Regions from separate parts of the Homo sapiens genome. Here region 2 is linked to region 1. The links come from fine-mapping of genetic effects on gene expression. Tissue or cell type: testis. Region 1 holds a variant in brackets; the other region holds the start of a gene. All regions are shown on one strand. Distances are from middle to middle.

The links. PIP is the estimated chance that this variant, and not a neighbour inherited with it, causes the effect.
Region 2: it holds the start of STK32B, and the variant in region 1 is fine-mapped to the expression of STK32B in testis (GTEx, PIP 0.90).

Annotation. Positions count from the first base shown.
Region 1 is chr4:5,435,870-5,440,031 of GRCh38, reverse strand. The region is part of intron 6 of STK32B (serine/threonine kinase 32B); the gene reads right to left. Among named protein-coding and RNA genes, the nearest start is that of LINC01587, 87 kb to the left of the region's middle. The variant A/T (reference allele first, on the strand shown) is at 1,951.
Region 2 is chr4:5,049,684-5,053,845 of GRCh38, reverse strand. STK32B (serine/threonine kinase 32B) reads right to left here and starts at 2,366. Exons shown (of 12, transcript NM_018401.3): 1 at 1,931-2,366. The coding sequence starts at 1,982. RefSeq lists an enhancer at 1,126-1,664.

The DNA of each region.
Region 1 (4,162 bases):
CCTGACTTCAAACTATACTACAAGACTACAGTAACCAAAACAGCATGGTACTTGTACCAAAACAGAGATATAGATCAATGGAACACAACAGAGCCCTTAGAAATAATGCCGCATATCTACAACTATCTGATCTTTGACAAACCTGAGAAAAACAAGCAATGGGGAAAGGATTCCCTATTTAATAAATGGTGCTGGGAAAACTGGCTAGCCATATGGAGAAAGCTGAAACTGGATCCCTTCCTTACACCTTATACAAAAATCAATTCAAGATGGATTAAAGACTTAAACGTTAGACCTAAAACCATATAAACCCTAGAAGAAAACTTGGGAATTACCATTCAGGACATAGGCAAGGGCAAGGACTTCATGTCTAAAACAGCAAAAGCAATGGCAACAAAAGCCAAAATTGACAAATGGGATCTAATTAAACTAAAGAGCTTCTGCACAGCAAAAGAAACTACCATCAGAGTGAACAGGCAACCTACAAAATGGGAGAAAAATTTCACAACCTACTCATCTGACAAAGGGCTAATATCCAGAATCTACAATGAACTCAAACAAATTTACAAGAAAAAAACAAACAACCCCATCAAAAAGTGGGCGAAGGACATGAACAGACATTTCTCAAAAGAAGACATTTATGCAGCCAAAAAACACATGAAAAAATGCTCATCATCACTGGCCATCAGAGAAATGCAAATCCAAACCACAATGAAATACCATCTCACACCAGTTAGAATGGCAATCATTAAAAAGTCAGGAAACAACAGGTGCTGGAGAGGATGTGGAGAAATAGGAACACTTTCACACTGTTGGTGGGACTGTAAACTAGTTCAACCATTGTGGAAGTCAGTGTGGCGATTCCTCAGGGATCTAGAACTAGAAATACCATTTGACCCAGCCATCCCATTACTGGGTATATACCCAAAGGACTATAAATCATGCTGCTATAAAGACACATGCACACATATGTTTATTGCGGCATTATTCACAATAGCAAAGACTTGGAACCAACCCAAATGTCCAACAATGATAGACTGGATTAAGAAAATGTGGCACATACACACCATGGAATACTATGCAGCCATAAAAAATGATGAGTTCATGTCCTTTGTAGGGACATGGATGAAATTGGAAATCATCATTCTCAGTAAATTATCCCAAGAACAAAAAACCAAACACCGCATATTGTCACTCATAGGTGGGAATTGAACAATGAGATCACATGGACACAGGAAGGGGAATATCATACTCTGGGAACTGTTGTGGGGTGTGGGGAGGGAGGAGGGATAGCATCGGGAGATATACCCAATGCTAGATGACGAGTTAGTGGGTGCAGCGCACCAGCATGGCACATGTATACATATGTAACTAACCTGCACAATGTGCACATGTACCCTAAAACTTAAAGTATAAAAACAAAAACAAAAACAAAAAAAGTCAAATCACTCCAACCTCCGCTTCCTCTGCCATGCTTGGCCTCCCCATCGTCCATCAGTTACCCAAACCAGAAATCTGGGAACCCTCCTAAATGCCATCCTCCTCAGCCTCATGAACGATCAGTCTCCAAATTCTGTGTGTTTTGTATTTTCAGCATCTTTTTGTCTGCCTCTTCCTATCGGTGATAGATCATCCTGACTCCAAAGTCAGTGATCACACTTGTTCATTAAGCATCGGATGAGTGAATATTTAATGCTTTCCTAGTACATGCTGGGCACTGATCTGTGCTATTCCGAATCCCACCTGGATCCCACCACTGAGCCCGAAGCTGGGCTTCAGCCTACAGGGACTTCCTTCCCTGCACCAGAGTGTGTGCCTGTTCCTCTTCTCAGTCCTGAGGGCTTGAGAGAAAAGGAGTCCCTTCATGCTGGGCCAGCCCACAAGCTCCAATAGCGCAGGGTGCACCCAGCAGTGCAGAATGGCTGTGTGTGCCGAGGTGTTCCCCATCAA[A/T]CCTTGTCATGCCTGGCAGCCCCAAGTCCATTCAGAACTCAGGGTAGAAGCAGCAGCAGAGTGATCCTGTCCTGGCTGTCATGATCAGACAAGCGACAAATGTCTGCAGTCCTAGAGAAGGTGACATTCCCTCCTCCCCCACACACTTGGAGCTGATGGTAGAACACAACAATATTGATATCATAATCCCTATGCCACCAAAATGATGTCATTGGCTGTTCAGAATCCCAGCACTTAGACGTGAGAGAACTACACAGGTTTAGAGCTGGAAGGACAGGTGTGAACCACATATCTGAACAATAGCAACCGTGATTTGTCAGGTGCCATGTTAAGGACTATATTACCTCTTTAATTCTCCCAACCACCCAACAGGATAAATGCTACTATGATCTTCATTTTTCTGATGAGGAGGCAGAGGCATTTGGAGATGTAGTGGGCCGAATCATTGCCCCCTAAAAGCTATGTTCAAGTCCTAACTCCTGGGACCTGTGAATAGGGCCATATTTGAAAATAAGGTCTTTGTAAATGTAATCAAGTATCTCAAGATAAAATCATCCTGGATTTAGATTGGGCCCTAAATCCAACAACTGATGTCTTTATAAGAGAAAGGAAAGATCTGAGACACAGAGAAGACGGCCATGTGAAGACAAAGGCAGATCAGGGCAATGCGGCCACAAGCCAAGGAACGCCTGGAGCTACTGGAAGCTCAAAGAGGCAGAAAGAATCCTCCCGTGGCTTCTGAGGGCACATGGCCCTGCTGGCCCCTTGATATTGGACTTTCAGCCTCCACAACTGTGGGAAAATGAACTTCTATTGTTTCAGGCCACTCAGTTCGTAGTAATTTGTTTTGCAGACACAATAAATGAATACAAGGGGTAAGGAACTTGCCAAGGTCACCCAGTTAGCACAGCAGAGCTGGGATTAGCACCTCTTGGTTTTCTGACTCCAGGGTCCTTTCCCGTGTACTGGGCAACCGCCAGGAGTAATTGAGTTATCTGGGGATTGGTGCCCTGGTGCACCCTTCCACCCTCCTTCCTTCCCTCCCAGGACCTGGTGCTCAGCCCAGTATACAGAAGGCACTTAATAAATGTGTGGACTGGCTCTTTCACCCTGATGCCATAGGGCTTGTCTGGCTCACTGATGTTTGCAACAGAGGTGGAAACAGCTCACAGCATCTCGAGATGTCAACATCGCAGGGCTGAAGGGTCCCTTGAAACTCATCGTGTTCTCCACACCTCCTTATTAGAATTGGACACTGGGCCTGAGGAGGAAGAGTAGCTTGCCTCAACCACCCAGTAGTACCCCTGAGGTCAAGTCTAGAATTCTTGGTCCTGACTCCTAGGTTCAGGGAATTCCCATGACTGTCACAGTGATATTCAGCTGCCAATTCTGCGTGATTCTAACTCCTAATAGCGCGTGTACCCTCCCTTCCTCAGCTTTGCTCACATGCTGCTCATGTTCTGATGCTTGTTTTCCCTTCTAGTCCCCTAGGAGCAGCATAGCTTCCCAGCTGGGCCTCTGGACCCAGAGAGACCTCCAATCTGTCCTTCTCACTGCTGACCAGAGAGTCAGTTTTCTGACATGCCACAGATGATGGTATTCCCTGCTAAAAGATCTTCCCATCACGGTGGCTGTTTCATAAACTGTGTTCCTTGCAATGCCACTGGATCCATGTCCTTTCAGCTCTAAACCTGTGTAGTTCTCTCGCATCTAAGTGCTGGGATTCTGAGCAGCCAATGACATCATTTTGGTGGCATAGGGATTATGACATCAATATTGCTGTGTTCTACCATCATCCTCAGAGCCTTTCGTGTGCTGATGTGCTTTGGTGATGTTCACAGGGGCCCAACTCAGTAGCAGGCATGGCTTGGAAATGTATTTGACTTGATCCTGGAATCTTTCCTATTTTTAATTTTTGGTGGAACACAAGGTACTAGGGCTGGGGACCAGTCTGGCCCAGAGGGCAGTTCAAATCCACGGCCCAGCACTGAGGCCCCAAGCTGTCTTGTGCCGCCCTGCTTGCCCATGGCCACCCTGGCTCCATGCTGCGTGCTGTTCCTGGAACACCCTGTCTCTGTCTCTGTTCCTGACACTCTTTCCCAACTCACAGAAGGTGCAGCCCTAGGGTTTCGTCCTCCAGGAACCTACCATGTGCCAGACAAGGCTCTTCACAGGTACAGTGGACTCCTCAGAATAGGCCTCTGCTATTATC
Region 2 (4,162 bases), 390 kb after region 1:
CAACATGCCCGGCTAATTTTTGTATTTTTAGTAGAGTCGGGGTTTCATCATGTTGGCCAGGCAGGCCTCTCCTGACCTCAGGTGATCCGTCCACCTCGGCCTCCCAAAGTACTGGGATTACAGGCATGAGCCACCGCGCCCGGCCTCATAACCTTGTATTTTAACAAGCACCGAAACAGGCAGTTAACCTTAGGCCCAATCTGCTTATAGAATAAGGAACAGGAACAGGAAAATCAAAAGGTTGGCTACACCAGAGATAACTATTTTGCCAATGAATATTTTCAAGCTGGGGATAAATGACAGAGACGGTTTTCAATATAAGGGTGGCAAATTTCCTCTGTAAATAAAAGAGAAAGATGCTAGGAAAATTAGCAAAAGCATGACCTTTGACCCAGGCTAGAACCACAAGCCCGTGCAATTGAGGGTGATGCTGCATAGTGTTCAAACTCTTACTGGGACATGCAAGAGCCTCCATTACCTCTGTGCCCACCTCTCCTCTGTCCACAACTGGCTCCTTACCTGCTCACCTGCACATGCTCCAGACTAAAGATCAGGAAAAGCTGGGGCCTCTCTGTGCCCCCAAGACCCTGCACTGGTTTCTCAATGCCCTTATCACCATGGACGGTCATTCAGGGCCATTAGACTAGGAACTCCTTTAAGGAAGGCTCTCGTGGGCCTGACACAGCAGGTGCTCACTTAACCTTGACTGTGTTCATCTATCTTTTTGAGAAGGGCTGTCCAGGCAGGCATCTGAGTAGCACTCACAGCCTTGGGAGTTCTAGAAGCCATCCATGATGTACGCACACAGCCAGTGCCCTGGGTAATGATGACAGGCACAGCTTTCAAAGCAGACTGTCCTGCCTCAAGCCCAGCTCTACTTCTTACCAGCAGTAACCAGGACAGACCCCTTTCTAAGGTAGCCACCTCAAGGGGCATGAAAAGGATGGAGTGAACACTATGTGCTAGCATGGCTGGAACATAGTAAGTGCTCAGTATGTCTCAGCTCTTACCTGGGGCACAGTGGAGACTGGCGAGTCAGCACAGTAGGAAACCAGCTTTGAGAGGCAGAGGGCTCTTAACATAAAAAACGGCACAGCTCGGTACTGCTTGCATTTATAAGGCACTTTTCACGTGGATTACTAGTGGTTAAGCTTCAAACAACCCTATAAAGTAGCTAGTGGTATCATAACTCACATTTCATTGATGAAGGGACTAATGTTTCAGAGAGGTGAAGTAAGTTTTCCAGGGACACGCTGCACTGGAAAGAGGGTTCTGCTAGTCCAAATAGGGAGCTCTATCGACCTGAACCGCAAGGATCCAGCCAGGAAGTTGAGATGCGGTTGGACAGCCTACACCACTTCTGCGCCAGGGGGAGGCTGCCCAGAACAGGACGCCCTCCTAGGAACCACAGAGTTTAGCAAAGAAAAGTTTCCCTCTGTCCTGGGTGATTGAGGAGAGCTGCATCCAACAGGCCCTTGCACGAGACCAAATGCGTCGTGGGCACGCGCACACACACACAGACACACGGTGCAACCCGCCCTTCCAGGCCACCTCCGTCAGCCTCAGGCTCTCAAGGAAACCTCGGTTTCCTGGGGAGCCCGAGCCTAGAACCATCCCGACTGGCCTCCGAAGTCAACTCCTCCCTTCCACACCCCCAAGTGCAGGTTTCGGGTTCAACTCTCTGAAGCCGCCTCCCCAGTCCCGCGCTAGGCACCGTCCCGACTACTAAACGGCACTGGGTACCTAGGAGTTGCCTCAGCAGAAGCGCCGCGCCTGGCACGGGTCGGGCACACACTGCATTCGCTGGGCGAAGTGGCCATGCCTGGGTCCCCGCGCCGGGCAGCATGCGGTGCCCCGCAGGGCTCGGCCGAGGGTGGTGGAGGAAGGGGATGCCCCGCGAAGCGGGAATTCGCACCTCTCGCTCTCTTACCTTCCTCATTCTCGTCAAACACGGGGGGCTTGTGGGAGTGGTTCCCGCCCATATTCCGCCGTTGCTGCCGCTGCTACATGCCCGGCCGCTGGGATGCCGGATGCGGGATGTGGGACGCGCGCAGAGATGCGGGATGCCGGGGGCGCGCCCAGTCCGGGTTGTAGCCGCGCGCGGAGCCCGAGGGGGCCGAGCACCGTGCAGGGGCGGGGACGGCGTCCCCCTTCTCCTGGACGCCCTTCCGACTGCGCTCGCAGGGACCCCGCTCTCGCCGCGCCTTCCGCCGTGCCCCGCCTCGGGCTGCGCTCGCAGCTCCTTACTCCAGTGCCCGCCCGGGAACCCGGGAGCTCCTCGCGCCGGGGCCAACGTGCGGCGCTCCTCGCCGGCTACAGCGGGCGGGAGACGCGAGGCGGCGCGGGAGCAGGGGAAGGAGGGGAAGGAGCGGGGGAGGAGGGGACGGACGAAGGCAGCACGCAGTGGGCGGCGGCAGGGCGGAAGGAGCTGAGAAAGGGATCGGCCCGGAAGAATCTGAATCCCTGCTCGGCCCTCCTCCCTCGGCCGGGAGCTCGGTCCCTGCAGGCAGTAAGCGGTTTGTCAGCACCCACTATGGCCAGGCCTCGGCTACGCGCTTTGTTAGCACCATCCCACATCCGCCTCCGACAACCCAGCAGTAAGAAAGCATCGTTCATATTTTAGAGCGCAGTAGACGGAGGTCTAGAGGTAGAGGGGCTCTTAGGTCTGTGGTTAGTCGGCCCCGGCTGCGAAGGGAGTCCCAGGACTCCCCGCTAGCCTGTATTTGCCCATTCATATTGGGATGGGCAGTGGAGTGTCTGCTGGCTCTCCAACCGACGCTGTTCCTCTTAAGGTTTTTCTCAGTGTTTAATGAATGAAAGTATCTGTTTACTTTCTGACCCCTTAAGATTAGATACTAATCTGACCCCTTCATTGTACATGGGGAAACTGAGGCCCCAGACAGCCATAGTTTGCCCCAAACCATTCTCCCTGGGAATGGCTGGGCATGAGTCTCGGGATTCCCCCAAAATTGGGCGGCATCGGCGTCCGATTTAGGGGCGAGGCTAGCATGAGGGTCCCTGGGCTCCTGCGGCGGGAGCCTGGATCGGGAGATACGCGCCACAGTTGCGGGTGCCTAAGTAAGGGGTGCGGCAGATGCGCCCCAAGACGTGTGGGGCGAGCGCGGGTTCCCAGGACGCTCCCTGAGGGACAGGCAGGTCCCCCTGCCTTGCAGTCCTGCGGGCCCAGCTCTCCGGGACTGCAGGGAATCTTTGGCTACATCCTGCCATCTGCTGGGCGCCTGGAACCACTGTCCGTGCTTTGATAGAAAGCAGGGGTTCTTTGTGACTCTCTCCATCCTATCTCGTCCCCCAGTCCCCGTCCCCTACCTGGTCTCTCTCTCCAGTTCTCTCCCCTTCTTTCTTTTTCTTGGGAGAAGGGTGAGGGAAGCCGGGGAGACTCATACAGAAACAAAACAAAACAAAACAAAACAAAAAATCTCTTAAAGGCAGTGGGAAAGAACTGAGAAGGTCTGAGGCAGGCCCACCCACCATGACCCAGAGCTGGCTCTACCATTTACTGGCAATGTGTCCCACTTTGGAGTTCTTATCTGCAAAGTGGGCTGATTGATATTAACTCCTTGGGTTGTCTGTGAGAATTATATCAGGTAATATTTATAAAAGCAGGCAACAGTGCCCGGCATATAATAAATGATGAATAAATATTTCTTGCCTTTCATTCCACCAACAAGCATACACTGAGTAGCCAGTGTGCAGCAGGCAATGCCCTGAACACAGAGCTGGCCCCTAGCTCAAGAAGCATAGGGCGGAATGTGGACAGGCATGGGCTCTGGGCTCATTCTACCCAGGTTTCATTCTGCTTTGCCCCTCATTAGCCAGTTAACTTGGATAAATTACTTAACCTGTTCTGGACTCAGTTTCTTCATCTGAGTCCAGAAGGTGCTAATAAGAGAACTTTCCCTTTCTAACATTGTTATGAGGAATATATTGATATTGTGCTAGGCCGGGCGTGGGGGCTCACACCTGTAATCCCAGCACTTTGGGAGGCTGAGGCGGGTGGATCACCTGAAGTCAAGAGTTTGAGACTAGCCTGGCCAATATGGAGAAACCCCATCTGTACTAAAAAAACAAAACTTAGCTGGGTGTGATTGCCAGGCCTCTGAGCCCAAGCTAAGCCATCATAACCCCTGTGACCTGCACATAT